Homo sapiens: one gene and its partners. The protein of the gene in region 1 purifies or fractionates together with the protein of each later gene. This does not show direct contact. Each region holds a gene or a part of one and is shown in the gene's direction. Other genes may lie near its edges.

Region 1 (10,391 bases):
CCTGGCTGTGTCTTGTAACCAGTTGGAGACTTCACTCACAGATGTCACTCTGGGGCTACTGAAAATAGAAGAAATCAGATAATACAAAATTTCTAACTGTATTCACATTAGTGTGTTCTTTGTTTTCTTATTTATATTCACAGTCATGAAAGAAAATGAGGTTAAGTACCTTTACACATGGTAAAACCAAGAAACTGAAAAGTTTAGTTACTTCCCTGAGCTCACAAAACAGTGACAAGACTCTGGATCTCATTTCCCTATCTCCCTGTCTCTAACCCAGGATAATTCTCTGGATTGCATTGCGTGTCAGAATTTCTCTGTTCCTACAGTGTAAATTTCAGCCTTAAGCTCCACCTACAACTTGCCATTTTCGCCCAAAGCATTCAAGATGTTCTTTTGCATCCAGACCCTCCTCCAAATGAAGAAAGCTGCAGTGAAAATGCCACTGAGTTGAGGGGTTGCAAACCAAACCTCCATTCCCATAATTCAATTCTCAGGCCCCAGCCTTCTGCTAAGGCTAACAGATCCACTCCAAAATTTTAAGAGTCCACAGTGATCAAAAGCATCTGTATATTCTGAAACATGCAAATCAACCCTGTTTTTCACATTCATCTCAACATTTGGTGGAGGGCACAAGAGTCAGCTGGCTGCTGAGTGGACGCAGCTTAGCAGATGAATGGAAGGGTCAAATCCCTCTCAAGATTTGTAGAACTGGATCTGAAATATGAAATGCCAGCATACGTGATGAGAGGGATAGTCTATCGAGTGTTTTATCATCCAAAGATGGAATTAATGGCTATGCCATATCTGTGTCAGACCCCGGCAGTAAAACTTTATGGGTTCTTCCCCGTGAAATATTTTGTTTATGTCACGTGGGTCTCATCGGATGTTTTTTTCTCTTTTCTTCACTTCCCCTCCCCACCCTTTTCCCTGCCCTCTTTGTCTCCTGAGACCTATTCCCTTTGGAAATGCATTAGTTACCTAGGAAACCTTAATGTCATTTTTTTATGAGTGGAGTTTGGTGCAGCATAAAGTTAATTTATAGGGTGGTTAGGAATTCATGTCATGACTGGTGAAATAGGAGACTTTATTATGATTTCTACATCCACCTGTGTGGTAGGAATACATACCTTCCCTCTATCATTACGGGTAATTTCTTGAAACGTAATTATGAATATGTATGCCATGTCACAGAATAAGTTGATTCACCGTTGTTCAATGCAATTCATTATATTGTTCAATGTAAGCCCTAGAACATAATTAGCAATAACAACAAACCAATAATATACCAGGCAATCTGTTAAGAGTTGAAGGATATGGTGGAATTTCCTTTTAAATGATGAGGTGGTTCTGGGTGAAAGGCAGAGAATGAATAAGACGAGATTTTGAAATCCTTCAATTCTGTCTTTCATGCACATTGAGGTCCACGTTGGGAAGCTATATAAATTCTAAATATGTCCACTACTTCATTCTGCTGATTTATTTCTGTATTTGTCCAAAGGGGAAAATATACATCCATAAAATTACATTAATGAAATGTGTAGTGGCATACAAATAATAATACACAGGCCATTCCAGAGCCAAGCTTCTTTCTAAAGATAGCTCATTCCCCCAGTGGTGTGACAGTGTTTCCTGTGTAAGGACTAGCAGATCGGGACTGGCATTCACATTGTGCCAGGCACTGTGTTGAATGTTTTAAATTAATTAGTTCCTTTGGTCCTCATATTACTTCTATGAGATTGGTGTTGTCTTCACCAATTGCAGATGGGTTCTAAGAAGTTAAGAAACCTGTACAAAAGCACATGGCTACTGAGTGGAGAAGGTAGAGGGGAACCTGCTTTTCTCAGGCACCAAAATCTACTCTGGCAGTAAATTCTAGGTCGTGGTCTGTCATTATGTTTTTGTTTTTGTTTTTTGTTATTCTGAGTTTCCTCAGTTATTAAATGCAGAGTGGGGGACATAGGGGCTGATAGAAGTTTATCTCTGATGTCTGTATTCTGTGTAGAGAGATCAATGCTAGTCCTTAGAGCAAAGCTGTGCTTTCTTAAAATGACAGAAATTTGGGGGAAGACCTGGTCTTGTTAAATAAACATAAACAAGCCACTCAGTTTCTGTGGACAAGTGCATGCGAATTGAAAGAAAAGAAGAATGTCTCACAGGTGACTCCAGGTCATCTGAGAGGAATTGCTATATGGCTTGACAGCCTGTAGCTCTTGGTGAATAATGCTGTTGCCAGTATATAGAAACGGGTGGGCAGCCAGGAATCTTTCAAGTGCGGAGGCACAAAGGTAGCATGAAGCCGCCTTTCCTGACCCTTAAGCTCCCAGTCCCTGTGCAAACACCTTTTGCATTCACTTTAATTGTTTGAAAAACGAAGACTTCCAGACTCCATCAGCTCTAGCAGCTGTCTGGGTGGATGGGGGTGGGGATGGAGGGGGTAGGGCGAGACCTCCCCACAGCGCCCTCCAGCAGCAGAAGATGCAACTTGCAAATACTTCAGGATCAGTGAGAAGTGTGGTGTTTATTTTAGTAACCTCAAAAGAGAGAAAAAGAAAAGCAGTGGAAGAGGACAGACATTCAAGGCTAGCTACACGATCATGGGGAAAAAAAACAAGCTTGTCTTTGACACGGAAAGGGTCCTTGGAGGCCATTCGGTCCACTTCTCTCATTTCCTGGGTCAACATGTCACAATGAATTAACCACATACTGCCACTGCACAAGACCCCCTCCCTCACCACACGCTGAGCCCCCACCACCAGCATTCAGTCCACTGAGCTCAAACATAGGGAGATAAGTGCTGTTTTCACAAGATAAAGGCAAAATTCAATCCCACGTTGCCGTTTTGTTTCTGTTCAGTGTTCCAACCACAGAGTGGTGCTATTGCAAAAGATAAGGGTAACCAGAAGGCACGCTCTGGAAATTTGCTTTAGGAGAGAGTTTTAAAGGGGGTTTTCAAAAACAAGATCTGATTCCTGCTCTCAGAAATCACTTCCAGGAGTCAGGGCCTTACTCTCAGATGCAGCAGGGAGAAGAAGAAAGTTCAGCAACCTAAAAATACAGTCGACAGATGGGCAGCCAAAGTCATGGCCACGAAGTCAACTTGGAGAGGAGCACCTACCTAGTGAATCCTAAAAGATCTCATCCTGGATGCTTCCTTAACCAGGCCTATGTACAGGGCACAAGCTCGCAGCCAGCTTACTTTCCAGTCCTGATCTTTGCTTTTGCTATCCATACCAATGGTATTTCTATAGAAAAGAAAAATCTCTATTTAGAAACACGGATTTACTTAGAAGTCACAATATTCTAGTTTAAAAATGGCTCTACATAGTAGAGAATGATCTTTTTATTCTGTCTTCTTAAAAATACACCTTTCTAATTCTTTTTTTCTTCCCACCTTCTTCATTCAGCACCTTGCCACTCCCTTGGAAGCCACAACAGCGAGCTGGGGGGTCAGTCCCTAGTCTTAGAGGGAAGAAATCTTTAGGTCTGAAGTCTAAAGAAAAACAGTAAAGGAAAAGGCAGTTGGCGGTGCTCAAGGTAGACTGTCTGAAAGAGGTCTTCTACTCAGAAAAGGGCTAAGGCTCTCCCTTTGGGAAACCAATCCTTCTGAGAAAAAGTGCATCTTTCACCCTCTGCTCCTGTCTGGGTCTCTCCCTCTTCCTCCCTCCTTCCCTCAGTCCCTCCTCCCCTCTCTCCACAAAGACACAGCACATATTTGGCAAGATTAAGGTGTCACCTCTCATATTACAAGGCCTGTTGATTGCAAGCAAAGACAGACCCACCAGCTTAGGACAAAACCCCTTGGAGTTGGAAATAAGACAAACTCTGGGATCCCCGAAAGTCCCGGCAAAATGACGCGGCCAGCCAGTGCAAGGCATCTGCAGAACAAATCCAAGTCCTAAACGCACTGCTTGCTGCCTTTTCTTCTCCTTCCTTTCTTCTGATTTTTCAAGTTTGTTTGCCCCCCTTCCCCTCCTCCCTCCAGACTGCCAGGGACCTGGGAGCTGCCTGCAGATCAGCCCGCACATGTATTTAACCCCTTCCCTGCTGCAGCAGGAGCCAACCACCTCTTTCCTTGCAATCTTCAGGTTCCCAGAGGACCTGGAGCTTGAGAAAAGAACTCTGCCAGTGGATCTGAAACTGGGGCCTGAATCCCTCCTTTGACCAGGGCGAGAAGCTGGAGGAGGGGGGCAAGTGCGGGAAGTGGGGGAGGGCAGGGAGGCGGGCCAGATGAGAGGGAGAAAAGCAGAACCCGACAGAGCACGCCCAATCCAAACCTTCATGGTGCTGTGTGGCTGGGTGGAGGGAACGACTCGGCAGCCTCTTCTGGCCCTGAGGAAGACGTCGATATTTTGGCACGAGGGGAGCCACTGAAGGACTACCCTACCCTTGCGAGGGACCGCAGGAGGTGACGCCCCTGGGCCTCGGTGGGCGCTTCTGGCGGTTTTCGATGTGGCAACCCCCATCAGCCAGGATAATGATGAGGCAGGTACAATCTATCTAGTACGCAGCCCCCAGACTCCCCCCTCCCTTCCCACCTCCCCATCCAACCCCCCAGCTACTCTCTGCGGCCGGTTGGTCCTGAACTGGTGGGTGCAGTTCCGATGTTTAACCAAATTCTCAAGCAATTTCAAGGTATTTGGATTTTTTGAACCTGGGCCCTAACCGAAACGCGGAACGGCTTGCTTATTAGACACCTCGAACGACAGGGCAGGGAGGAAACGGGATACTCGCTGCCCTTCCCAGTCGCGCGTGAGTCAAAAGGTCCTGGCAGGAGATGATGTGAGGAGCGGCTGAAGTGGCAGGGAGGAAGGGATGAGGGGCTTGGAGCGGAGGTCCACCACGCAAGGACTCGGGAAGCGGGCAAGTGGGCAAAACTCTGCTTCCGGGCTCTCGATTTCTCGTTGATCACTAAGTGGTATTTTTCCCCCTTCTCTCGATGGCAAATGGGCGAAATCAAGATGACTTAACTTGGTAAATTTAGAGAGAACGGCTCGGAGCAAGTGAGGTCTAACGGGCAGCTAAAATTATCTCCAAATAAGAGATTTTGACCCCCTCCCCCTATCCTCTCCTCGAATGTATCCACCGGTGGGGAAGTGAGCGTCATTACTTTCGGGGCGCCACGAACAGGTTTGTTTGTTGCTCGCCTTTCCTGCTTCTCGCGCTGTCCCCGCGTGCAGACTGGTGGGTGCTGGGCGAGTGATTAGCTGCAGGGCCCCATCCTAGTTTGGAAGGAAGGGGTTTAGAAGTTGGAGGATGGGTGAAATGGGAGGCTGCGATCCATCTCCCTCTCCCTTCCACACTCAAGCTCCCGCAAACACGCGCGCGCACACACAGCCCCTCCCTAGTCCCTCGGACCACCCGCCCCCACGCCCCTCTACCTTGACCTCCCTTGACCGCCGACACAGCGTCCTGGGTGCGGGTCCCCGGGAGCGGGGAGTTCGCCGGGGAGCGATTGTCCTTGGGCGTGTTCGTGCTGTGGGGTGGGGGGAGGAGTGGCGGGTGGGCTTGGTAGGGGGTGGGGAGAGATCTGGAGCTGGAAGGGTCTAAGGTTTGGAGGAGGAGTTTACGCCTCAGACCTGATCCTCCTGAGGAAAAAGGCAGGAAAAGGCCCTGATGCCTTGTAAAGAAAATCTTGAAAGAAAAAAGATCAAAAAGAAAAATTTCAAGAAAAAGAACCACTAAGAAAGGCTGAAGACACTAACATGTAACCTGTTACGATACATTTAACGTTTCGTTTTTTCCTGGATCTCTAAAAGGGAACTCAAGGGTGGGGGTTACTGAAGAATACTACAGATTTGGAAGTTTTTGTTGCTGTTGTTGTTTGGTTTGGTTTTGTTTTTCAAGAGGGGCCAGGAGAAATGACCCCTTCCCCGCCACGGGTCCCGAAGTGAGGGCGGGGGGGGGGCTCTGGGGCGCGGGCGCGCGCGGCGCGGCGCGGGCCGGCGGGGGAGGGCGGCGCGGCGCGGAAGGGGTTAAGGCGCTGAGCGCGGAGCCATCTGGCCGGGTTGGCTGGTTATAACCGCGCAGATTCTGTTCACGGGACTCAGAGTTGAAGCTCCTCTCCCTTCCGAACAGCTCCGCGCACCGCCCCGCGACGCAGCCCGGCGCAACTACTTTCTTCTCTCTCCTTTCTTTCTTCCTCTCCTTTTTCCCCTGCTGGGTAGTGGCTGCGGCGGGGTGGGGGAGACTTTGAATGACCGAGCTCGCGTCCACCTTTCTCTTCATGTCGACGTCCCTGGAAACGGCCACACGGATGCCATGGTTACTTTTGCCACGGTAAGGGGAGGCGGCGGGCACCTTGGGTGGGCAGGTTTGGGGATGGGGGTCCACGTGGGGAGGGATTTTCCAGTGGACTGGTGCGGGGGGCCCCAGATCCGCATCCCGCCCCACCCCCATCGCGCCGCGCTCACTCACTTTCCCGGGCTTGTGTCTTCCCCAAAGTTTGCGCTGGGATCTGCTCAGGCCGAAGCGCAACCGCAGCCACCCCGCTACACACACACACACACACACACACACACACACACACACACACACACACACAGACACGGACACCCTTCTCCACCTCCTCCCCTCTTGTCCCTCGGCTGCCCAAGAAGCTTCCCTCAATCTGGGAAAGTGATCAGGTTTAAGGGACCTGGATTGGAAAGGGTGGGGGCAGAAGAGGGGAAATGGGGACGACGAAAGAGCAGGAAAGAGATTCAACAGAATCAACCACCCACCACTCCCAACCGACCCGCCTGCTCCTCCGAGAAAGCTCCTAGCGCATCCTATAACAAAAGGGGGTGGCAGACAGAACTCCGGGCGGGGAGGTGCCGCGGCAGCTCCCCTGCACACGCCCTGCACTCTGCCGGCCGCTGAGCCTGATTCTCAGCTCGCCCCAGCACCACTCTGGCCCGGGCGTGGGCTGGGGGGAGGGGACGCGCAGCTCAGGACCCGGAACCTCGCGTTCCAGTTTTGGGAGTTGGGACTCACTGCCACGCGCCGCGTACCTGCGTTGGAGTTCCCCGAAAGGGTTTTTTCAGAAAAGACCTCGCGCCCCGGGCTCCTCTTGGCCAGCGCCCACCCGGTGGCCACCCCACCCTGGGCCTTTGCGCAGATGTTGGAGCTCCGTACGCAGCCCGCACATCTGGGACCCCTCCGGGGAGCGGCGGGCACCCGGGCCCGGCCATCCCAGGGGATCTCCTTGCGGTATCGTCCAGCCTGTTCTCGGACTTTGAGCGGTGGCGTGGGAGGCCGGGAGACCTGGGCACCCGCGCAGCCAGCCAGGTCGGAGTTTAAAGGTCCCACGACGGACCGAACTGTCCCATTGCCCCAGAGCTTTACTCAGTGGTGGATGCTCCTGATGAAATTTGGGACGCTTGGGAGTTGAAGGTTAGGGACAGGAGGGGCGAGGGCCGAGGGCATGGGATGGGGGAGTAGGATTCTGCTTGTTGCTCTCCGCGGGAGTGGGTGCGCGTCCAGGAGGCGCTGCTTCTTTGCGGGAGTTTGGCTGCTGCGTTCATTCGTCGTCTGCGCTTCAGATGCACGGCACTGAGACCCTTGCGTCCGACGGTGTCGGGGCTGTGGACTAGAAAGGATCCCTTTTGCTGGAATCGAGGCTGGGGTGGGATTGCCGGTGGGGGAAACACCGAAAAGATCGTCTGGCCTCGGCCTCTGGCGGCGGGCGGCAGGTTCTGAGTCCGAATGGAGGTTGCTCCCGGGAGCGCCGGGCTCAGAGCTAGAGAGCTCGGGAGACTGTGCGCCTGTGGACTTGTTTATGTGTGTGAAGAGGCGGGGGCGAGGGCCTGCTGAGAGGGGAGGGGAGCCTGGAAGGGGTGGGTGTTTCTCCTGGAGCCTGATGTTTGTAACTCAGCTGATTATGGAGTGCACTGAGCGACCTGCTTTTTAAATAAAGAGGTGCCCGCTCCTACCCCGCAAAACAGCGAACGAGGAGAACATGGAAGCGCTCTGTCCTAAACGTCAGGATGGGAGAAAGTTGTAACATAGAGGAGACTTTTCCAGAGGTCCTGTTTTCACAACACTCAGAAGTTCTCCAGCGTACTCAGCCTGCCTCCCGCCTGCCCTCAATTCCTTTTTGACATGTCACACAAAGAAAGCTGAAAGGTAGAATGTGGAGGATAAACTCCAACCCCCTCTGCCTTGGGCGCAAACACACAGACTTAGGTATCGTGTTAGGAGGTAAGGGGGTTGGAAAATAATGCAGGCTCCGGTAGACAGTGTTGAAGGGAGATAGAAAGTCTGGGGTATTTCCCCTAGGGAGAGTGTGTGGGATTTTGTGTTGGTGAGGACTGGAGTGTAGCTGGACTTAGAGGGTTTGGTTGTGTGTGAATGGGATATGCTTATCTATGGAGTGAGATTGTGACCATTGAGTGAGTGGTCAGGGAGGGATGGGGATGTTTTTCCAAAGTGTGTGTGTGTGTGTGTGTGTGTGTGTGTGTGTAGGGGAAGGTGGCAAAAGAGCTGGAGTCCTATCCCTCTTTGGTGCCTGGGAGGTGTGTGTTTCTGGGGAGTCTGTCGGATGGGCATCTGTGTGCTTAGCGGGAGACAAGAGCTTGCAGGAACATAGGTGTAGCTAATGCGAAATCTGTGCCTATGAAGGGTGTCAGAGCAGGAGGAGAGGTGCAGCCTGTTGAAGACAGATGGCTTGTGCATGCCTGCACAAACACATGGAGTGGGTGTGGTGTAGGAGGGCGGCTGTGTGTGTGAGGGAAAGGTGGATGCATGTGGAAGGTTGGGCGCCTGAGGATTACCAAAGGGATGTGTGTGGGGGGTGGGGGAAGATTATCTGAGGAGCACGGGGTTTGAACTTCATGAGGGTGCACTGGGAAATTTGGCTGGAATGGCACTGGGGCATGTAGGGGGTAGAAAAGTGTGAGCTCAGATCCTCTTTATGGAAAGACAAAGCATTTGCAGGGAAGGACACCGGGTTGGTGTTGGTGTTTGCCTCCCCCCTCCTTCCTCCCCAGAGAGAAGAGAATTGGAGGAGGCTTAGAATGAGGGATGTACATTTAAGGGGAAAAGTCCTTGTGCATTGGCACTGGGTGGGAACAGGAAGAGATGTGTGCATAAGACTGAAGTAAGTAGAGGAATGCACTATCTGTGCCTGGTGTCAGGGATGCATGTTGTATAATGTTTTGTAATGGGTTTCTTATGTAATAGGAGAATTCACTATCACCAGTTCATATTGATAATCAATTAAAGCTAATGGAGTGCCTACTGGATGCTCAGCCCATTGCTGGGTACTGGGGCATGGCACACTGCCCTGGAAAAATTCCTTCTCCAGGCTCAGTAAAACTGATGCAATTTTGCCAGAAATAGACAGAGCTCGACGCTTGTTGAGGTTTCTTCAAGGTCTATAATTCAGTTTCTAGAGATGTTTATGGATCTTGGGGGCCAAAGGGAAGCTGACTTGAAATATATCTCTGGTTTTGTAAAAAGTGGGGCATAAAGAGAGGGATGATGTAGACTTTTGTGTATTGGGAAGGGAGCTGGACGGTGTTGTTGTTTCTTGTGTGGGGTGTGGGCTGGGAATTGGAGGGTGCTGCACTTCAGGTCAGAATGCAGGTCCAGATCCCTCTAAGGATTGAGTTTCTAAGAGTACACAGAGCCTCCTTCATAGCTGGAATGAGACCTGTTATGTGGAGCTGGAGAATGGTGAAGTCATGATCAAGGAAGAGATGGACTGGGAGTGTTTGTTCATCTTTGATGTTTTCTGGGCTACGAGTGTAAAGCTAACCTGAGTGTGTGTTGGGGGGGTGGGTATGCATGCAGGTGCGTGCACATGCACTTTGGCCTGGAGTAACGTAACTGGGAGAAAACTAGCGAGGTGGATAGGAGGGGTGGATATTCTGGCTCTTGTGAAGGGGGTGCCAGTATGTGTTTTTGCAGGAATTCTGTGTGTCTGGGGAAGGATAAAAATTGTCTTGGATACTCAGATGTGCATCTTTAGCGAAAAAAGGTGTACACAAAAGAAGGGCCGTAGACTTTGGGGAATGAGACAAAGGTGTCGTTGATCGGGTCCATACCCTGAGATGGCTGGTGAGGCAACTGGGTAGGAACAGAGTGAAGGCTGTGCTTTTGTGATGCACACATCTGCCTGTCTGGAGCAGACGATGGGGATCCCCATTTGATTAGGTTCTGACCACCGTTGGGCATATGTTTGGGAGGACTTTATTTGACTCATGACATTTTTGAATTCATGAAGTTACAGCTGTGCCATTTTAAGGGTCTACCTTATTTTTGAGAGGGAAACTCATCTGTGTAAGAGATAGTTTATATAGGGCTTGACTATTGGTCAGAAGATCCGGGGCAGATATTTCTGAGAGCAGGGTGGTGAAGTGCAAGACTGGATTGGGAATGTCTTAGTTCTAGTCCAGTTCTACCACTTG
Region 2 (10,495 bases), on another chromosome or scaffold:
TTCTTTTGAGAAGTGTCTGTTCATGTCCTTTGCCCACTTTTTGATGGGGTTGTTTGTTTTTTTCTTGTAAATTTGTTTGAGTTCATTGTAGATTCTGGATATTAGCCCTTTGTCAGATGAGTAGGTTGCGAAAATGTTCTCCCATTTTGTAGGCTGCCTGTTCACTCTGATGGTAGTTTCTTTTGCTGTGCAGAAGCTCTTTAGTTTAATTAGATCCCATTTGTCAATTTTGGCTTTTGTTGCCATTGCTTTTGGTGTTTTAGACATGAAGTCCTTGCCCATGCCTGTGTCCTGAATGGTAATGCCTAGGTTTTCTTCTAGGGTTTTTATGGTTTTAGGTCTAACGTTTAAGTCTTTAATCCATCTTGAATTGATTTTTGTACAAGGTGTAAGGAAGAGATCCAGTTTCAGCTTTCTACATATGGCTAGCCAGTTTTCCCAGCACCATTTATTAAATAGGGAATCCTTTCCCCATTGCTTGTTTTTCTCAGGTTTGTCAAAGATCAGATAGTTGTAGATATGCGGCGTTATTTCTGAGGGCTCTGTTCTGTTCCATTGATCTATATCTCTGTTTTGGTACCAGTACCATGCTGTTTTGGTTACTGTAGCCTTGTAGTATAGTTTGAAGTCAGGTAGTGTGATGCCTCCAGCTTTGTTCTTTTGGCTCAGAATTGACTCGCTCTGTCACCCAGGCTGGGAGTGCAGTGTGGCGATCTCAGCTCACTGCAAGCTCCGCCTCCTGGGTTCACGCCATTCTCCTGCCTCAGCCTCCCAAGTAGCTAGGACTACAGGCACCCGCCATCACGCTTGGCTAATTGTTTTTGTATTTTTTAGTAGAGACGGGGTTTCACCATGTTAGCCAGGATGGTCTCGATCTCCTGACCTCGTGATCCACCCACCTCGGCCTCCCAAAGTGCTGGGATTACAGGTGTGAGCCACCGCACCTGGCCCTCAGTCATCTTTCTAAATATTTGAAACAGCGGAGCCTGGATAACAACCTTGGTTAACAGATTCATACATTAAATATGCTGAGTGCAGTGTACTCAAATTCCCTCATTGAGCATAAAGCTCAGCCCATGGTTTACACCACCCCTTTCCAGAGTGTTAGTGACCTGTCTGTGGGGCCACTGTGGACCTCTGGCATTTCCCTAGATTGCAGAACTGATTAGAAGATGGTCAAAAACCAATAAACAGTACAAAACAGGCCGGGCGCGGTGGCTCACGCCTATAATCCCAGTACTTTGGGAGGCCGAGACGGGTGAATTACCTGAGGTCAGGAGTCTGAGACCAGCCTGACCAGCATGGTGAAACCCCCCTCTCTACTAAAAATACAAAATCTAGCCAGGCATGGTGGCGCACGTCTGTAATCCCAGCTATTCAAGAGGGTGGGGCAGGAGAATCACTTGAACCTGGGAGGCAAAAGTTGCACTGAGCCAAGATGGCGCCATTGCACTCCAGCCTGGGTGACAAGAGCGAGATTCCGCCTCAAAAAAAAACAAACAAAACAAAACAAGTGAGTAGGGTAATAGGTTAGCTGAGATGCAGTCAGAATTCAGGTTTACTTAACAGATCACAAATCCTGTTTCAGGGGAGGAGAAACAACATTAAGGGATTTGAAAACCTCTTCCATCACTTACTGGTGAGGTGATCTTGAGCAAGCTACTCACCTTCTCTAAGCCTCGATTTCCTCATCTGTGAAATGGAAAGAAAAACAGAACTTGTCCCACAGAGCTGATGAGAAGATTAAATGAGTAATGCACATTATGGGCCTTGCCAGAGTCCTTGGAAAATGCTAGTTGCCGTTTTGATAATCTGAAAGTGGTATGCCACCACAATAGGCCCTGCTTTGAAACATAGTGGGTATTAATCTGTATTTGTTTATCTCATATCTTTCTGTGGTGGTCACTAGAAAGGACCTCATAGATGCCCCAAGCTGCAGGAAGCATAACCGACCCAGGGCTCCAGATAGCCCTGCAGAGGCCATGCCTCCGGGAGGATGATCCCACCAATGACCGAGCAGAGTACCGTGGACTCCTGACAGCAGATGCCCTCCAGAACTGCCCAGCAGCACTGCTGGATCTTCCTGGGACTACAGGGCTGTCTGAGATATGCCCTTCTACCCTTCCCTCTCTCTCCCCTTCACTCTAGGTCACACTGGCATCACAGTCTGATGCTCTCTCTGGCTAGCACTCCCCGTTTTTCCCTCCCACAAGCATTTACCCCAGTAAAAAATCTTAACATGTTTAATCCTGTTTTAGCTTCTGCTTCTCTGAAGACCCGAACTAACACACTACTTTCTCATGTTTTTTTGTATTTCCAACAGTGGGAAACTTACACTTGTCCTATGAGTTCTGGACTGTTTGTTCAGCTACTTACAAACGCCATTTCGTTACAGCAGCCACGGGGAAGCAGTGGATGAGAAGCAGGAATAATATAGGCCATTGTGAGTAAGGCTGCTATAAACATGTGAGCCACTGAAATCTGATACTTTTTCAGGGATCCATAGTTTCTGGTTCTTTCTGGTCAAGAGAGGCTAAAGGAAAGGTTTTTAAAGATATTAATTTTCTTAGTCAAGTAACTTAACCTCTCAAGGCCTCAGTGTCCTAGACTAGCACAGAACAAGCAGATGAAACAAAGTTTATATCAGAATGTCAACTGAAAAAGTATCATTTACCATAAATGGAAGATAATTGTATTAAATTCTAGTTAGATGCTAAAACTTCAAGAACTTTTAGAGTCTGTACCTGCATTCTGTTAAAAATATAGATTAAAAAATGCTAACATGTTAACACAAAGGACTTTCCAGAAAGACTTAAAGAAAAGTGAAAGGGGAATAACTGTCTTGCAATGTAATTCATTGTCGTTTAAGACTGGGTCTATGGAACACCCTAAATCACCTGGTTCCATCACGTTCTTTTTAACATGGAGATGGATAGTTTTTCCCCATACTCTATATATTGAGCATTCTATAGTTCATGATTTTTCTGCATAGAGAATTGTTCAAGCCGGGGGTGCAGGCTCACCGACTGGATAGTGAATCAAGAAAATAGTGTGTTCATTAGTTCATCATTACCCTGAGTTTCCAACAAGAATTTAGTACAGGAAAGTAGACAGCGGAGCTGGGAGCCATCTATTTGAAACTGTCTTAAGCAAAACTAAGAAACCGAGTAAGCTTGCTTTTGGTGTCTTTCATCCCTTCTTGTGTGCCCCCTAATTATTCACTCCCCAATGCCCAGACATTATGATGCCTTCTCCTGCTCAGAGACCTTTCTGGGAGGAAGACCTACTCAGACCTGGTATTCCCTCATCCTAGGCTCTACCCTATTTTTCATCCAGCTGTTAAAGCTGAGTGACTAATTTCACACTTATGTACGAATGACCCATAACTGGCTTAATGCTGTGACCATCTTGGGGGTATTCAAAGCTGATAAACACTTTTTTAAGTTATATAATAATCAAAGAAGCTTATCTTTCTGCTTTATTTCAAATTTCACCCCACAGGCCTTACTTATTTTTAAGATCAATGATTTTGATGGGCCCCCCCTTCCCACTCTTAATTCAGGGTATTTCTGGCCCCATCCGGATCCAAACTCTAATGCTCATCTCTTCCATACTGTCCTTTGCAGGTCATCGGTATTGCAAGAGTTGCATAAGGCCCAATTCAGTCTCTGCCCCAAAAGCTCAAGTCCAAACTTCAGAATCTGGGAGGACAAGGATTCAGGAAATTTTGTCAGAACTATGAGCTTTGAACTTTCACTTTTATGGTGAGGGTCACATTTGGTCTGAATCAATTAATCCATTACCCGCCCCCCCCCCCCCCCCCACCACCACCATGTGTGAATTCAAAATAATCAACTTGGGTTTATTATAAAAAACAAAATATATTAATATAAGTATACTAAGATTTTTCTAGAAAACTTGGCCGGGCGCGGTGGCTCACGCCTGTAATCCCAGCACTTTGGGAGACCGAGGAGGGCGGATCACAAGGTCAGGAGATCGAGACCATCCTGGCTAACACGGTGAAACCCCATCTGTACTAAAAATACAAAAAATTAGCCGGGCGTGGTGGCGGGCGCCTGTAGTCCCAGCTACTCGGGAGGCTGAGGCGGGAGAATGGCGTGAACCCGGGAGGCGGAGCTTGCAGTGAGCCCAGATCGCGCCACTGCACTCTGCCTGGGTAACAGAGTGAGACCCTGTCTCAAAAAACAACAAACAAATAAACTTAGAAGAATATATGTGACTATTGGCCGGGCGCGGTGGCTCACGCCTGTAATCCCAGCCCTTTGGGAGGCCGAGGCGGGCAGATCACGAGGTCAGGAGATAGAGACCATCCTGGCTAACATGGTGAAACCCTGTCTCTACTAAAAATAAAAAAATAAAAAATAAAAAATGCGAGGTGGCGGGCGCCTGTAGTCCCAGCTATTCAGGAGGCTGAAGCAGGAGAATGGCGTGAACCCGGGAGGCGGAGCTTGCAGTGAGCCGAGATCGCGCCACTGCACTCCAGCCTGGGCAACAGAGTGAGACTCCGTCTCAAAAAAAAAAAAAAAAGAAGAAGAAGAAAGAAAAAGAAAAGAAAAAGGAAAAAGAAAACTTAATTCTGGCAATGGACTGTTTCTAAAATAATATATTAATACTACTTAATGAGGAAGAAAAAACCTCTGACATCCTAAAATGCCAAGTGTTTGCCTTTACCAAGGTTTAAGCACACATAAACACGCATATTCAAATACCACCCAAAGTGGAGGTGCAAAGATCAGCCTGTACCGCACAGTAACACAGACTGGGTTGTTTTTTGTAAAGAAGGCAACTAGTCCAGTGAGTAATCCCTTCATTTTCCACACACATACCCTTCTGTTTTCTCCCTCTCCTCCCCCCACACCCTCCACTGCAGTTAAAACGTAATTCGAAGAAGCCTAAGGTAAAAGCCCCTGCCGCATAATGACCCTAGAGCTTCACCTCACCTACTCTGATTCTTAGTAACCTACCTCTAAGGATGAGAGACAGGGTGCTACGAGCGGGGCGAACTTTGGTCCAGGAGTTAAGAAACCTGAACCCTGGAGTCCTCAAAAAAAATGAATGAAAATAACAGAGGCGCCCTGAGGATCCAAGCTGGGGCGGTGCCAAGGGCTGGCAAGTGAGGTTGGGACAACAGAAGTCAAACGTGCCGTCCTTCCAGATCCCGGCGCTTATGGCGGAAGCCACTCCAGGTGAGAAATCCTAACAGTCATAATGGCATAACAAATAAACATCGGCAAAACAGCAGTCTGCCAACGACGTGCTTCCCTACACAGACGTCCTCCTGTCTCCACACTCTAGAGGGGAGAGGCGGAACAAATGCTGCCTCCGCAGATTTTGGAAATCCGGAAGGGAGCCTCCGAGCCCAGGTCCCGGGCTGGCAGGGGTCTCGCCGGCGCTTGGACCTCGTCTCCCACCCCCGAGCCCACTGCGGCCCCAGAGCCTCGGGAGGGGCCGGGCACTTCCTCTGCCCTCCGGCCTGGGGCAGGGGCCGGGACGCGGTGGGAGTGCAGCGGGGACGGCACCGCCCGAGGGGGCGGGCCCCAAACTTTCGTGCGCGTTGAAAGCTGCTGGCGCGGCGGGGCGGACTCCACCCCTGCCCGGCAGCCCAGCGCCTCCGGCCGCACTTCCAGCTCTCTGCGCAGCCCGCCGCGCAGCCCGCCGCCCCAGCCATGGCGAAGCCCCTGACGGACCAGGAGAAGCGGCGGCAGATCAGCATCCGCGGCATCGTGGGCGTGGAGAACGTGGCAGAGCTGAAGAAGAGTTTCAACCGGCACCTGCACTTCACGCTGGTCAAGGACCGCAACGTGGCCACCACCCGCGACTACTACTTCGCGCTGGCGCACACGGTGCGCGACCACCTGGTGGGGCGCTGGATCCGCACGCAGCAGCACTACTACGACAAGTGCCCCAAGGTAACCGGGGGCGGGACGGCGGGCCGGGGTCCAGCCCGGAGTCGGAGTCTCCGGCCGCGGCCGGGCGGGACGAGGTGGAGAACCCCTCAGAGTGGTCCCTTGCACCCGGTCCTTGCCCCGAAGTCCAGAGGAGACGTGTCTAGGCTGTGGGCGGGCAGCCTGGGGGACAGATTAGGCCTCCCAACAGACGCCGAACTCATGTCTCCGAGGTGCCACCCGCCAGTGTCCCGCCCAAACCACTGTGCCGTCCGCCCCTGGAAACCGCCAGGTGGGCAAAAGCCCAGGCCCCTCTCGCCTGTCCACTTCACAAACTTTTTTGGAACTTTGACTCTCAGCATTTAATCAAGAGGTGACGGGGGCCTCTTGTCCTGTATGCCGGACACTATTCTCTGCCCTGGACACTCAGCCCTAAACAAAAGGGACAAAAATCTTGCCTTGCTGGAGCTTGGTATTTTGGGAGGGGAGACAAACGCCGAGCTGGGAAAAGGTCGTAAGTCTCAGGCCTCTGGGAGTGGCTAAGTGTGGTGCAGAGGAGGGGCAGGGTCCCGCTCCAAGCGTAGAGCGCCGCCCACCCATTCTCCTGAGTGGGTGTAGCTCCTGGAATTCCGTGAGTCTTTCGCAAAGGCGGCCCAGGGCCAGGCAATGCCCTGGACTCGTCCTCCCCGAAGACACACACTCCCCCGACCCTTAGCCCTTCCACACCCGAGGCCTGCCCCCAGAGCTGCTGAGGAAGGCTGGTCAGGGACCACCTCCATCCACGGCGTGGGGGCGGGAGCAGAGACCTCCTTAGGGTGATTTTGGACCTACAGAGGGACAATATCTCTGCCTGACAGTTTGCGAAGAGGGCGAGAGGCAGTGGGGAAGGACTGGGGAGGACATGGCAGGGAGAGGGATTGTGTGCAGGCTGGAGTGAGGGCGGGTGTGAGTCTGTATTGGGAGAGGAAACTGGAGAAGCCAGGTAGAGACATATTGGAAAGAATAAAAGATTGGGATACATCCCAGGGGCAGTGGGAAATATATATAAACATTTATTAGAACTTTTTAATTATGTAAAGGTGTGAAGAAAAAAAAATGGTCTATAATCCCAGTGCCCAAGAAACCCCATAGGAATTTTTAAGAAAGGAAATGAATGTAAATTCTCATAGTAAGAAATTGCAACTGTAACAGTTTTCAAATGGAAAGTAACTCTTCTTCACCCCAAAGACCTAGGCCTCCACCAAGGTAGCAACTGCTAAAATGTATCCTTAAAAATTTAAATGCACCTTAGAAAACACTTTATGTATACATATATTTACTGTTTTGTTGTTTTGTTTTGTTTTGTTTTGTTTTGTTTTGTTTGAGACAGAGTCTCACTCTCGCCCAGGCTGAATGAAGTGCAGCGGCGCCATCTTGGCTCACTGCATCCTTCGCCTCCAGGGTTGAAGCGATTCTCCTGCCTCAGACTCTCGAGTAGCTGGGACTACAGGCTCCTACCACTACACCTGGCTAAGTTTGTATTTTTAGTAGAGACAAGGTTTCACCATGTTGGCCAGGCTGCTCTCAAACTCCTGGCCTCAAATGATCCTCCTTCCTTGGCCTCCCAAAGTGCTGGGATTACAGGTGTGAGCCACCACACTCGGCCACTATCTTTTAAAAATTTATTTACACAAAGGGAATGCTACTAAGTACACCATACTGCGCCTCTCATTAAAAATTATTTTTAACAATTTTAAGCGGAAGGGTGGGACACTGAGCATATATTAGAAACACACACTCACGCCTCTGTAGCATTTAGCATCATAGAGCACCAGAGAATCTTGTATGTTTTTCCTTCAGTGGCTTATGCAGTGCTTTATGGTTTTCCTGGTTCTCCGGCCAGTTTCTTCACTGGGCTCTCCTTTTCTACGTGAGTGCAGATATAAGCCAGGAATTCCGACGTGTGTAAATTCTGATAGCGATACACTGGGGATACAACAATGAACATGTTTCATTCCACACGTGTTCATCAAATATCTACTCCATCACAGTCGTCTGTCTAAACAGGATGGTTCCTGCCCTCATAAAGTAGAGCAAGTAGGTGTGTCCAAGCTCCTCTCCCACCTCCCTTGCTCTCCAATAACTGTGCAGATGAATCCCAAATATGGATCCCTAGTCTGAATTCCTTTTCTAACTCTATGCGTACATTTCTGAGTGTTTAGTGAACATATCTAGATATCTTCCTATTTCCTCAAACTCAGTACGTTAAAAACTCAAACCATTATTTCTCCCAATCCTGCCCCATCTTCCCGTGTTTTGTTTTGTTTTGTGACAGAGTCTCACTCTGTCACCCATGTTGGAGTGCAATGATGCAATCTCGGCTCACTGCAACCTCTGCCTCTCGGGTTCAAGTGATTCTCCTGCCTTAGCCTCCTGAGTAGCTGGGATTACAGGTGCATGCCACCATGCCCAGCTACTTTTTGTATTTTTAGTAGCGACAGGATTCCACCATTTGGACAGGCTGGTCTCGAACTCCTGACCTGGTGATCCACCCACCTCGGCCTCCCAAAGTGCTGGGATTACAGGCATGAGCCACCACGACTGGCCTCTGTGTTTTTTGTTTTCATGCCATTGTCATCTTGACAATCCAGACGCAAACTTTAGTCTCACTTTTTGCCGTTCAACTGTTTGCCAATTTCTGTTGATTTCTATAGGTTCCCTTGAATGACGTGCTCTCCTCCATTATCTCTTCCTGCCTTGGTGAGGCTCTAGCTACCCATTTGTTGCAGCTGACTTCACGTGGTTATTTTGCTTTCCAGAAGTGGTAAAACCGGCAGCCTGAGGCTGAATAAGGATAGCAGACATACTTTGTTGGCCAAGACATTTTTCAGGAATTTAATTTTTAGCGCCTGTGGTCAGGACTTGCACACTCCATTTCTTAGCCCAGTACTCTTCTTTGTTTTATGTGACCTCAATTACACATTTATTTTCTCTGCCTAGCTCCTGAAGGCATTTGAGTATATGATCCCGTCTCATTCTGTGCATTGTGGTCTGCTCAAGCTTCCTAAAGCAACGCATCTTGCCCCTGCTCAATTATCATTGGCTCCTCTTGCCTGCCATAGAACTTAAGCAAGTATTCGAAAGCACTTCTCAGTCCAGGTGGGCCTGTTCTTCCCTTGTTATCTTCCATTACCCTCTGTACCCACCTTGCTCTCCCAACAAACCAATCCCCACTCTGGGCCCCCGATTCACTTGCAGTGTCCTTCCTACCACATTTCTATGCTCAACTCTTGCCTGTCCTGCAAGTCTCAGGTTTATTGACAGGTGTTCCAGAGGTCTTCCCGGAAGTACCCAGGCCCTCTGACTAATGCTGGGGATAAAAATAAAACATACAATTTAAAAATATTTGTTATATCTTCTTTATTTTATTTTACAAGCCTTTTGAAAATATCCACTTTTTACATAAAATACTAGTAATCATAGTACATGCATGTAATTTATAAAGTATATTGGAGATGCTCATATATTTTACTATCAGTCATATGTAACAAATATTTAGAGACCAGTAAGTAAGAGTATGGCCAAGATCTATTTTTTGAAGTCTTATATATTCCCAAATATAAGGAGAGATTACCTCTAAGAAGTTATTTGTGAGAAAACAGGGAATCACCTTACGTTCCTGTCCTTATAAAGTCTGTCATGCAAGGAAGTATTTTCTCATTTACTTTATTCTGAGCAACCACATATCTCTCAAGAGAGACTTTGAAATATTTTTAAGAAGACTTAAGTTCGTGCTAATGTGGAATCATTAAAAAGGAGGCAAATTTAATACAGATGTAGTCATTATTCCTGGGGGTATAACCTCACAATTGCAAGTGTGGAATATATACTATATAAACAAGCTTTTTGTAGATTACTTAAAAGAAAAAGGCAAAACATCATGGTTATAGAGATAATGAAAATACACACATGGAAGGATTTTTTTAAACTGGGTAATACTATGCAAATGGGTATTTGTGGCTTAAGATACTATTACCTGTGACAGCGGTCATCACGTACTAGAGCACCAGCCATTGCCTATGTCTGCCCCAGAGAAGGTACTTTTATCCAATCATTCGAAGGTATCTAATAGCTGGTGAGGGTTCTAGTAACAGCATTATAGACATTCAAACAACTTGGATGAAAACGAAGATGATGTGTTCTGGAAAGCAGTGTTAGGTGGCCCGTTAGGTCATGGATGTTGACCATTTGTTGTGAAATTTAGAACTCAATTGTTCATAAAAGGAAAATGGGAAAGAATGAAATTTCCAAGTTGACGTTTTCAAATAATATTTTGTTTTAAATATTTATGTGTAACTAGTATGTTAAATATGATAATACGCCTTTATTATACTGAATTCTACTCACAATTTTTTTTGATTGGCCAAATTATTATTTTTTCTTTTTTTACTTCTTATCTTATGGAAATGGGGCAATCCCTAAAATTTGAGGTAACTATATTGGTGCATTTACAGATTTTTGCCATTTTGTTTTGTGTCTAGTAGAGAAGAGAGGATAGATGATTGGAGAATAAGATATTGTAAAAGGGGGCAATGAAGTTACTCACTGGT
Region 3 (10,551 bases), on another chromosome or scaffold:
CAATAATGATCAATAAATACTAAGGGAACTCAGAGGCTGGCAGGATCCTCCATATGCTGAACGCTGGTCCCCTGGGCCCCCTTATTTCTTTCTCTATACTTTGTCTCTGTGTCTTTTTCTTTTCCAAGTCTCTCGTTCCACCTAACGAGAAATACCCACAGGTGTGGAGGGGCAACCCAGCCCTTCAATAGATTCTTTTTCCTTTAATGTCAGTGTGTTAAAATCATTAATGTCACTAAGAATATCTGTTGACACACCCCAGTGGAGGGAGGGCATCAGTTCCACAGTGTCATTCCAGCTGGTGGGCTCTTTATTCCCTCGAGCTTTATAATTACCAGCCTCTCAAAAATAATGCATTTGTTATTTATCTCTGTTTCCTGAAAGCCTGGGTCTGTGTTCATTTGCAAACACGAAATTGACCAGCACAGATCTGCCAGTGGCGTTGCTGGGATCCCAGAGAGATTTTCCCTCCGCACCTGCGGTCTCAAGGGCCGGCGGTGCTTCTGAGTCACTCATTTCACCAGCGATCAATGAGACACTCTTCAGGTCCTCAAGAAGCTTAAGCCTAGCCGACCAAAAATGTCTGTTTTCCACACCCCGCTTCTAAGTCCCACAGCATCTTCTTCCATTCACAAGACATCTTTCATCTCTTTTTCTGAGGCAGATGACAGGGGACTTGCTACAGACAGAATCTTAAATACCTATTTAAAGAACTTCAGGCTGGGCACAGTGGCTCATGCCTGTAATCCCAACACTTTAGGGAGACCGAGTTGGGTGGATGGCTTGAGCCTATGAGTTCAAGACCAGCCTAGGCAACATAGAGAAAGCTCATCTCTATAATAAATACAAAAATTAGCTGGGCGTGGTGGCATGCACCTGTAGTTCCAACTACTTGGGAGGCTGGGGTGGGAGGATAACCTGAGCCTGGGAGATCGAGGCTGCAGTGAGCCGTGATCACACCATGGCATTCCAGCCTGGGCAACACCATGAAACCCTGTCTCAAAAACAAAAAGATAAAAGAACTTTAAAGGTAATGTATTATCTCCAGCAACACAGAATAGCTCCCTACAACAGTAACGAAACCAGAACCAGCATCCATCCCTTCTTAGTGATTTTTTAAAAATTACCTCCCAAAAGGAGAAGACAGAGACGTAGAGGACAGTCTAAAACAGGGATTCCCTGATGCTGAGGTTAGCAGATGCTCTGGCCTGATCACTGCTCTGATCCAGGCTGCCAGAACAATCCTTTCTCTTAGAAGGGCAAAACTGCTTTTCAGCTTTATATAAAATAAAAGCATAGCCCAATTTCTTTCCATTTTGCCTGTTCTGAAGCCTGGCAGTTTTGTTGCTAAAATGGAAGATGAAGCTGAATCCAACTCTTGGTTATTTACAGAAGGAAAAAAATCTTTTCCCCAGCCCATGTTAGGGTCTCCAGCTAGGGGGCCTCTAATTACACCAGCCAAAGACAATTCAATCAGGCAAGAAAAAAACAAGTTTATTGGCATGTGCATTGCACTTACATGTGGCAGTACCTGGCAATGAATAACCCAAAGTGTGGTCAGGACTTGGGTTCATCTATCATCTTAGGCTGACATAAAGGAAAAGGCCTGGAGCTTCTGGGCAGGGGAGGCATGTAGTGGGAAGGTGTCTTGGTCTATTTGTGCTGCTGTAACAGAATGCCACAGACTGTGTAATTTATAAAGAAAAGTGGCTTATCTGGCTCATGGTTCTGAAGACTGGGAAGTCCAAGAGCATGGCATTGGCATCTGGTGAGGGCCTTTATGCTACATTGTCCCATGGAAGGAGGGTGGAAGTACAAGAGAGGGTGAAAGAGACAGAACAAGAGAGGGTCAAACTCATTTTTATAACAACCCACTCCCACAATGGCATTAATCTATCCTTGAGGGTGGAGGCCTCATGGCCTAATCACCTCTGAACAGTCCTACCTCTTATACAATGGCAATTAAATTTCAACATGAGTTTTGGAGGGTATATTCAAACCTCAGCAGAAGGTGCCCAGGAAAAGTATGGTAAACAAGGGTTGTTTAGGAAGGTTTGTTATGCAGACTTAAGTCAGTACTTTCTTCCACTGATAAGAGTTGTTACAAGATATCCTCTTCCTTGCATGGAAGAGGGAGACGTGGAAATTTCCTTTATAATAAATGTGAATTTTTTTTACAAAATGAAAATGGTTTTTAGAGCCTTTCCTGTGGTCTGCTGGTTCTTAATGGCCTTTAATTCAAAATAATCCACATGCGAAGAGGCATATTTTGGGGTGGTGTATCCCAATGCCCCTCAGATGCCTCTTTTGTGAACTGTCCAAGTGGATGCCCACCTCAGGACCTTTGCATTTGCTATTCCCCCAGATTCATTCATGCCTTTTTTTTTTTTTAGATGGAGTCTTGCCCTGTCGCCCAGACTGCAATCTCGGCTCACTGCAACCTCCACCTCCGGGTTCAAGCGATTCTCATACCTCAGACTCCCAAGTGCTGGGATTACAGGCATGCGCCACCACGCCCAGCTAACTTTTGTATTTTTGGTAGAGACGGGGTTTCATCATGTTGGCCAGGCCGGTCTTGAACTCGTGACTTCAAGTGATCCACCCACCCTGGCCTCCCAAAGTGCTGAGATTACAGGTGTGAGCCACTGCACCTGGTCCATTCTTTCATTTTTTTTTTTTAGTCTCAGCTGAGATATCACCTCCTGTAACTAACAGCTCAACCTGCTTTTCTTTACAACACTTAAAACTATCTAAAAATTATTTATTTGAAAATGATGGCCAGGTGCGGTGGCTTACGCCTGTAATCCCAGCACTTTGGGGGGCTGAGGCGGGCGGATCACCTGAGGTCAGGAGTTAAAGACCAGCCCAGAAACATGGTGAAATCCTGTCTCCACTAAAAATACAAAAATTAGCTGGGCATGGTAGTGAGTGCCTATAATCCCAGCTACATGGGAGGCTGAGGCAGGAGAATTGCTTGAACCCAGGAGGCGGAGGTTGCAGTGAGCGGAGATTGCACCACTGCACTCCAGCCTGGGTGACAGAGCAAGACTCCATCTCAAAAACATTAATAATAAATAAATAAATAAATTACCTGAAAATGGCTGAGATAATTAATACTGGGACTCATTTAGCCACTTCAGCAATATTAGCGGCCAGAGGAGGTGAGGAGACATGATGGTGAGAGGGCTCCTTCCTGCGTCAACCATGCGCATTATGAAGAGTCACATCATGAAGATTCAGTATTGGACTAAGTGCTGCAGGAGAGGGGAAGGACCATGGCAGCTCCCAGGAAGAGGAAATGACATCTGGGTAAGATAACTGTTAAAGAAAAAAAATAATCAATAGCATTTGTTAAAGCATGGTACCAGACTTTATTCACAACCATCATGATAGGTACAGGGACCACTGCAACGGGATCTTGCAGCAGGGGAGAGAGATTGGGCTCAACTCCGAAAACAGCATGGGCAAGTGGGCATTTATAGCCAAGGACTGGGGGAGGGGTCAGTGGATGGACAGTTACTAAGAGGACACTTCAGGGGTCCAGGTGATTGTGTCTAAACCACCTCATAGGATTCCTGTTGAAGGCAGGCCAGGGTGATTGGACAGCATGGGGGATGGTGGAGCATGGGGAGCCTGATCAGATGTCACCAAGGGGGATCAGACATCAGGGGCAGGGAATCCTGCTAAATTGACAAAGCAGGGATTGCTAAAACAGATGTCACAGGGAAGTGTATGATGGCCCTACAAGGCTCAGAAGCCTGACTAGAGTTTGGTCAAAGAATTTTTGTCAGGATCATGGAAAATTTAATAAAGTGTAGCTATGAAAGAAAGGACTTAAAATTTATTTAACCAGAGTAACAAAGAATTAAAAGTCAATCCAGTAAGAGAATATATAGGCCTTAAATCAGCATCCATTAGTGAAGTCTGTGGCCTCTAGTTTTTCTTACTAAAACTTACTCCACTTACAAAAGAAATATTGTGGAAAAAACAGGAAATACAAAATGTATGGAGAAAATAAGATAACCCCCCTGATAATTCTTCCATTCAGAAATAACCAGTGTTTAGGTTTGGATATACACCTGTGTTTCTAACACAGTAGTCCCTAGCCACATGTGGTTATTTAATTTAAATTTAAATTGACTAAATGAAAGTAATATTCAAATCATTACTGTCATTTCTGCATTACATCCTTATTTTTGTGTTTCATTTATCAGTATTGTGTCATCAATCACACCTTCCTAGCTAGCTATTAAAACAGTCATTCCTTTTAGCAGCACAATGGTTTATGATATTAACTTTGAGCACAGATACATTTTTCTGGGCTTGTGCAGTGGAGCAGGGCTTGGCTGGGGTGAACCTTGGCTGTTTCCCTTATTAGCTGTGTGGGCTTAGGGAAGAGTTAACTTCTCTGTGGCTCACCTTCTCCATTGTCAAGCGGGGGTAATAGCAGGCTATTTGCAGGGATCAGGAGTTAATACGTGTACACTGCAAGTAATGATCAATAAGTGTCAGCGCCTCCATTCTTTGCCAGGTGTGCACCACAGCTGGGGGATTAAACTTTACCACACCACAGCAGATAACATATTTGCATAACTTGCTTTTTGTCTTCTTAAGCTTTCCTTGAACTCAATTCCCCAGAGTGGTAGAAGTGGTCATAGGGCACTATCATTTTTATGACTTCTGAATTGCCAGATCACCCTCAGAGAGATTGCATCAGTGTTCGGAGCTTGCAGCCAAGCTCGACCCCACAGCCCTGCCATCTGTGCCCGAAGTTCGATCTTGTTGGCTCCAGAATCCCTAGGACATAGTGCAGGAGTGAATCCCGAGCTGGAGCTGGGTGGGCTGTGGGGTCATTCCAGATTGATTAACCTCCGACCTCTGAAGTCTGCAGCTGGAAGGGGCTCCAGGTAAGAAGATAACTTTGAAGCATCACACCAGGAAACCTACTGCACCTGGACTTTCATGACATTTCCTGCGGGCAATTTTTACCTCCACGAAATTCAGTAACCTTTGCAGCCCCTTCAGCCCAAGACCACCAGGAGCAAACCTGTGGTCCACAAAATCGGGTGTACTGACCCACTGCAATGAGGGAGCGCCTCCCAAGAACGAAGGGAAAGGCAGAGTTTGAAGGGGTTGAGGGAAGGCAGAGTTTAGGTGACCTTTACATGAAGCAGGGTTCCCACAGGCTGAGGCCAGCAGGACTGTGTTCCGCGGGGCCAAGTGTGGGAAGCTGTGTGCAGACGCCCCCTATCTGGAGCTGCAGCCTGGATTGGGATGACAGAGGCTAAGTCTCGGTTAGTGGCTGAGCTCCCCGGCCAGACGGGCATGTTTCCTTCTCCCTGCTGTAATCTCAAAGCGGACAGCGTCTGCCAGGTGGTTTCGGGAACAGGGTTTCTCCGAGGGCTAGGGGGCTGCGGTCCCTCCGAGGCGGGGTCGTGGTGGCATTTGGCTGTGGCTGCCTCGCGCCCTCGGGAACGGGCGTCTCCAGCTCGCTGGCAGCTGGTTTTCTCCACGTCTGTCATCGGCCTGGAGTGGCAAGCAAATAGCTGGTATTTTCAGAGCCGCCCTGCCCCGGACAGAGAAGACCGGGCCCAGCAGGCGTTGGTGGATGCCTTTCAAGCTGTAATCAGTTTCCCCGAACGTGTACCAGGTCTCGGCCACAGCCCGAGCCCAGCGCGCTCCCGCGGGGCACCTGGTGACCCGGTGCAGGGCGGGAGGGCCGGTCCCAGGAACCCGAGGGCCGGAGGGCAGGGCCCCCTTCCCGCACCGTCCCCGGGCTGGCAGGAGCGGCCACGACGGCACGCTCCGAGGCCCCGGGTCCCTTGCCCCCTCCAGTCGCTCCCACTTTCTGCCGGGCTTGCCCAACGAGGGGGCAAACACCACGCTCAGGTGGCGTGGACAGGTCGCTGCCGCCTCGGACTACACCAGAGATCTCAGCTATGAGCCTGGACGCCCGCCCCGCCCTCCCGAGGCCCCGCCCCGCCCCCCGAGGCCCCGCCCCGGCGCGGCGCGCAGGCGCGGTCCATCCCGCCCGCAGAGCCGCAGTGCCGGGCGCCAGAGCAGCGGCGCCAGAGCAGCTGCACCATCCCGGCGTTCGCGTGTGCCGCCGCTTTCCTCCTCCATCTCTTTTCCTCCGCCTCCGCCGGCGCGATGGCGAAGCCGCTGACGGACAGCGAGAAGCGGAAGCAGATCAGCGTGCGCGGCCTGGCGGGGCTAGGCGACGTGGCCGAGGTGCGGAAGAGCTTCAACCGGCACTTGCACTTCACGCTGGTCAAGGACCGCAATGTGGCCACGCCCCGCGACTACTTCTTCGCGCTGGCGCACACGGTGCGCGACCACCTCGTGGGCCGCTGGATCCGCACGCAGCAGCACTACTACGAGCGCGACCCCAAGGTGAGGCGCTGCCCCGCCCTGTGCGCCCGTGCCCGCTGAGAGGGCGCCGGTCCCGGAGCCGCGCCAGCGGGGGTCTCTGCGGGGCGGCCCGTCGGGCGTTACCTGCGCCCCTAGCCGGCCGGCGGCCAGGCACAGCCGACTGGGGAGTCGCCTGGAAGCCGCAGTCGGCGGGGCCCGGGCGTCCCCTGCGCAGGGCCGCGGCCACGGGTCCGCCCCACTGGGAGCCCGCGCCTGGCGGGGTCCGCCGTCCCCCGCAGATGATGCTGAGCCCGGGAGCCTGGCGGACGTTCCCGGTCTCTTTCTGGCCGTGCGCTTCCGCGCTGGCTGCAGAGCCGGTGCTCCCCGCCCCTGCCTCCAGCCACTCTTTGTTTTCCTGCAGCAGCCTGTGGGAGAAAATGGGACTGGAACCAGGCCTGGGCAGCCTTGTGGGTTGGAATGGGGTGAGCTCGGTAATCTGCAGGGAATTGTGAGACTTTTTTTTGTGTACGCTGCTTAGAAGAAAATCACTGAAGATGCCTGCTTCACGCAGGGAGGGGTACGAAGCTCAGAGATGGAGATGGAGCCCTCGAAGAAGGCTCTGTCTTAGAGGTTCCCACACCTCCCTTGGAGAAATTTGCTTGGGTTGAAGTTGACAGAGATCATCTTACTAATTGTTACTTTTTATATCTTGCAAAAATTTGTTTGAGTAGTGAAACAAAGTCACTGATTGTCCCCGTTACTCTTAACCATGTTTACTATGGGCCTGTGTTCTTGCTGTGTTTTTGGTATTCCTAAATATACATACACATTTTTAAAAAGTATAATGCACATACAGTTTTTTAGATTTTCTGTTTCATTCGTAAACATTTGTAACTTTTTCACTGATAAACAGCTTTGCAGGTCAATGGATAGGATGGTAGTTTTCAGTTTGATAGGTACATGGTAGTCTTGCACAGCCCCCTGTTGCCAGTTTTTTGTTGTTGTCGTTTGCTTTTAAACTCTTGACCATGGAGAATTGTCTTTCTACTACACTAACGTAGAGGGAGAACTGGTGAGGAAAAGACACACTTCCAGACCTGAAGCCACTTGGCAAAGATTTTACTTGCAGTGTACATCTAGGCAGTGAGCACTTGCTTTATGGATGGTATTTTAGAATATTTTTGTAGGGCATTAAGATATGTTTAATACGGTAATTGCTAAGAGATTGACTGCTTTTCCAAACTTATTCTGGGACATTCTTTTTTCTAAAATGGAGATGGTAAAAGGGACAGATTTGTTAGAATACCAACTGGGGCTCTTCATATTTGGTATGCAAAACATAGAAGTGGCAACGAATGGCCAAAACAGGTTATAACAAGGGCTTGGGATGACTTTGCCAGGAAAAGCAGCCAAGAAGCAGTGGCTCCCCCAGAATTCCCTGCTGTTGGGAGAGTTCTGATGCACAGCACCATTTTTTTTTTTTTTTTAATTCTGAGTCTTGCCCTGTAGCGTGAAGCTAGAGTGCAGTGGCGCGATCTCGGCTCAGTGCAACCTCCGCCTCCCGGGTTCAAGCAATTCTCCTGCCTTAGCCTCCCAAGTAGCTGGGATTACAGGCGCCTACCACCACGCCCGGCTAATTTTTTGTATCTTTAGTAGAGACGGGGTTTCACCATGTTGGCCAGGCTGGTCTCAAACTCCTGACCTCGTGATCCGCCCGCCTCGGCCTCCCAAAGTGCAGGAGTTACAGGCGTGAGCCAACGCACCCGACCCGCAACATCATTTTTATTGTCTAAGTGGCGGATGGCAAGGACATAGCTCTGCCTTCACATTCAAGGGCATTTCCTTGGAGCTGGACCAGGACTCAGCTCTACACCTTAGGGTGCCCATTGGAGTATTTATGTATAATCACATCCTGGAGAGGCCAGCGATGGGCTCAGGGATTACGGAAATGACCTTCATGAACAAGATAGTCCCTGCAACAAAACAGGTTTTTTGATCCTCCGTGAGATCTCTTTTGATTGTCTACGTGTGGTGGCTCTGGGTGGAAACCTTTCTCTTAAACCGCACAGTCTGTAAGTCGTAAAGTTGTAAACTTTTAGATCTCACAGTGTGTAAATAAGCTGTGTGCCTATTCTGAATAGGAAGGACATGGAAAATTGGGATTTAACTGCTTCTTTCGCTAATTCATGATGAAAATAAGCTTGCAATCCTTTCTTTGGAAAAGTTACATGCTTGCTGGTGATGGACCAGCAACCAGTCCCACCAGAGCCAATGAGAGGAGGTGTGCTCCCAAGAAAATAACTGCTGTGCCTCCCCCTCAGCCAGAAATGACCTCAGACATTCACCGGCACACTGCAGACTGTGGTAATGTGACACTCTAGAGCTCCTAAATAGAACGCTTTTATTGTTATTTTTGTCTTTTTTTAAATTATGCAAGTCCTGAAGGAAAAATTATTACTGGAGGAAAAATTAGAAAATATAGATAAGCCAGAAGGAAAAAAATTAACTGTAATCCTGTAACCCACTTCTATCGCCCACTTTGTGCTGTAAATATTTTGTGTTCTACATTGTTTTTTCCGTATTGGCAGAAACTTGTTTTTAATACATAAAATAACATTATACTGAACCTATTGTTTCATAACTCTTAGCACTTTATTTGTGGTACATAGCGAAAGAGTAGAAGTTGGGGTGTTCAGAGGAAGATTTGTCAAGCTTTGCCATGCTTGGCAAATCAGCACGTCAAAACATCTGGCTAACATGGAGAGCTTTGTGCTTGGCAAGAGGTGGCGGTTGGTCATGAAGACATTTAATGGATTCTCTGAAGTGGTGGCAAGGTGGCAAGGAGAGTCCAACCTGAAGCTGCAGAGCCTGGGATTGCGCTGCATGGAGAAGAAAGGGTGTGCGTGATTCCACGCTCCTTTTCATCCTGGCCTTTCCATTCGGTCTGTGCAACTGTGGGCTTGGGCGGATTTCTTTGCCATTATTGGCCTCAGTTTTCTCATCTTTAAAATGAGGGGAATCAAGCTGGTGATGTTTCCGAAGTCTGTTGCCATTCTGAAATGTTAGAGTTAAAATGTTTCTATTTCATATTGAATTGACATTCCATCTCTATCCAGAGAGAATTTGAGGATGCTTATGCTAGATACAGCACAAAAGGTTCACATTAGAAGGCCTCAGAGTGAGGGTTGGGGTGGGACAGTGAGGGTCAGGACACAAAACACAGACCAGGATCCTGGCAGTGAAAGCAGCCCATGCCCAGTTATGAGAGTCACGGGATCCCTTCTATAACATCCTGAAAGGACAGTTGCACGGTTTATTCTGTGGGCCTTTGTGAAGCTGTGTTGTCGATGTGCTGAGCCACTGACCTGCAGCACCCCTGCAGTGGATGTAACAATCAGTTTTTGAGACTCTTCCCATAAGCTCCTGGCATGACTACAACACAGATTAAGGAAAAGCAGCTCTACCTTGGGGCCCACACTGCTGTCCTAAATATTCCTAATGAGATAAACACAATGAAATACGATTAATCTTTTGGTTTGGCTGGACCCAGGAGTTAAAGAAGATGATCTAGAGAAGTGTTTTGCAGACCCTTCTGCTCTGTGATCCCCACTTCTGGGATTTGTTTTAATTAGTCAGTTGTGGTACCAGCCTCCGGAATCCTAACACTCCCAATTTTTCTGATGTATTTCCACTTTTATGTGTGAAGTTGAGCTTGCATCTCCTGGGCAGGCTTCCCTGACAGCAGATCGCTCAAAGTCATTTTCTCTGACCAGTAGCTGATGGTGGGTGCTGTTTTGTGTTGCTGACAGCTAGCCACTTGGAAGGTAGGCCTCAGCTGTCATTTTAGCAGATGGAGAAGCCTACAGTGTGTGCCTTCATTTTCTGCAGAAGACAGCCTGGCCTCTGCCCTTGCAGGCTGTGGTGGCTGGTTTTATGTGTCAACTTGGCTGTTGTGCCTAGATAGTAACGTGGATGTCCCTCTGGGGGGGTCGGGGGGTGGTGTTTCCCACACTGACTGAGCATCTTACAATTCAGTTCCGTTCTGATGCTGTCTACCTAGATGTAGCCTCGGATCCCACAGGCTAAAGGCTCAGTCCCACAAGACTTCTCCACCCCAGATGTCAGTTGCACATCAGGACCTCCCTTCTGACCTCTGACCGACAGCCTCCTCAGGTTTGATGATTTGCCAGAATGGCTCAT

The links.
Region 2: the proteins of NTF3 (region 1) and PYGL purify together in Homo sapiens (affinity purification with mass spectrometry; 2 studies listed by BioGRID and IntAct, with this or other methods). This does not show direct contact.
Region 3: the proteins of NTF3 (region 1) and PYGB purify together in Homo sapiens (affinity purification with mass spectrometry; 2 studies listed by BioGRID and IntAct, with this or other methods). This does not show direct contact.

Annotation. Positions count from the first base shown.
Region 1 is NC_000012.12:5,426,064-5,436,454, forward strand, and holds the start of NTF3 (neurotrophin-3 isoform 1 preproprotein), read left to right. Parts: upstream 1-6,044; 5' UTR 6,045-6,261; coding exon 6,262-6,279; intron 6,280-7,205; exon of another isoform or gene 7,206-7,269; intron 7,270-10,391. UniProt on the Homo sapiens protein: Seems to promote the survival of visceral and proprioceptive sensory neurons.
Region 2 is NC_000014.9:50,939,596-50,950,090, reverse strand, and holds the start of PYGL (glycogen phosphorylase, liver form), read left to right. Parts: upstream 1-5,607; 5' UTR 5,608-5,687; coding exon 5,688-5,930; intron 5,931-7,500; exon of another isoform or gene 7,501-7,986; intron 7,987-8,885; exon of another isoform or gene 8,886-9,290; intron 9,291-10,495. UniProt on the Homo sapiens protein: Allosteric enzyme that catalyzes the rate-limiting step in glycogen catabolism, the phosphorolytic cleavage of glycogen to produce glucose-1-phosphate, and plays a central role in maintaining cellular and organismal glucose homeostasis.
Region 3 is NC_000020.11:25,242,029-25,252,579, forward strand, and holds the start of PYGB (glycogen phosphorylase, brain form), read left to right. Parts: upstream 1-6,056; 5' UTR 6,057-6,150; coding exon 6,151-6,393; intron 6,394-10,551. UniProt on the Homo sapiens protein: Glycogen phosphorylase that regulates glycogen mobilization. Phosphorylase is an important allosteric enzyme in carbohydrate metabolism. Enzymes from different sources differ in their regulatory mechanisms and in their natural substrates.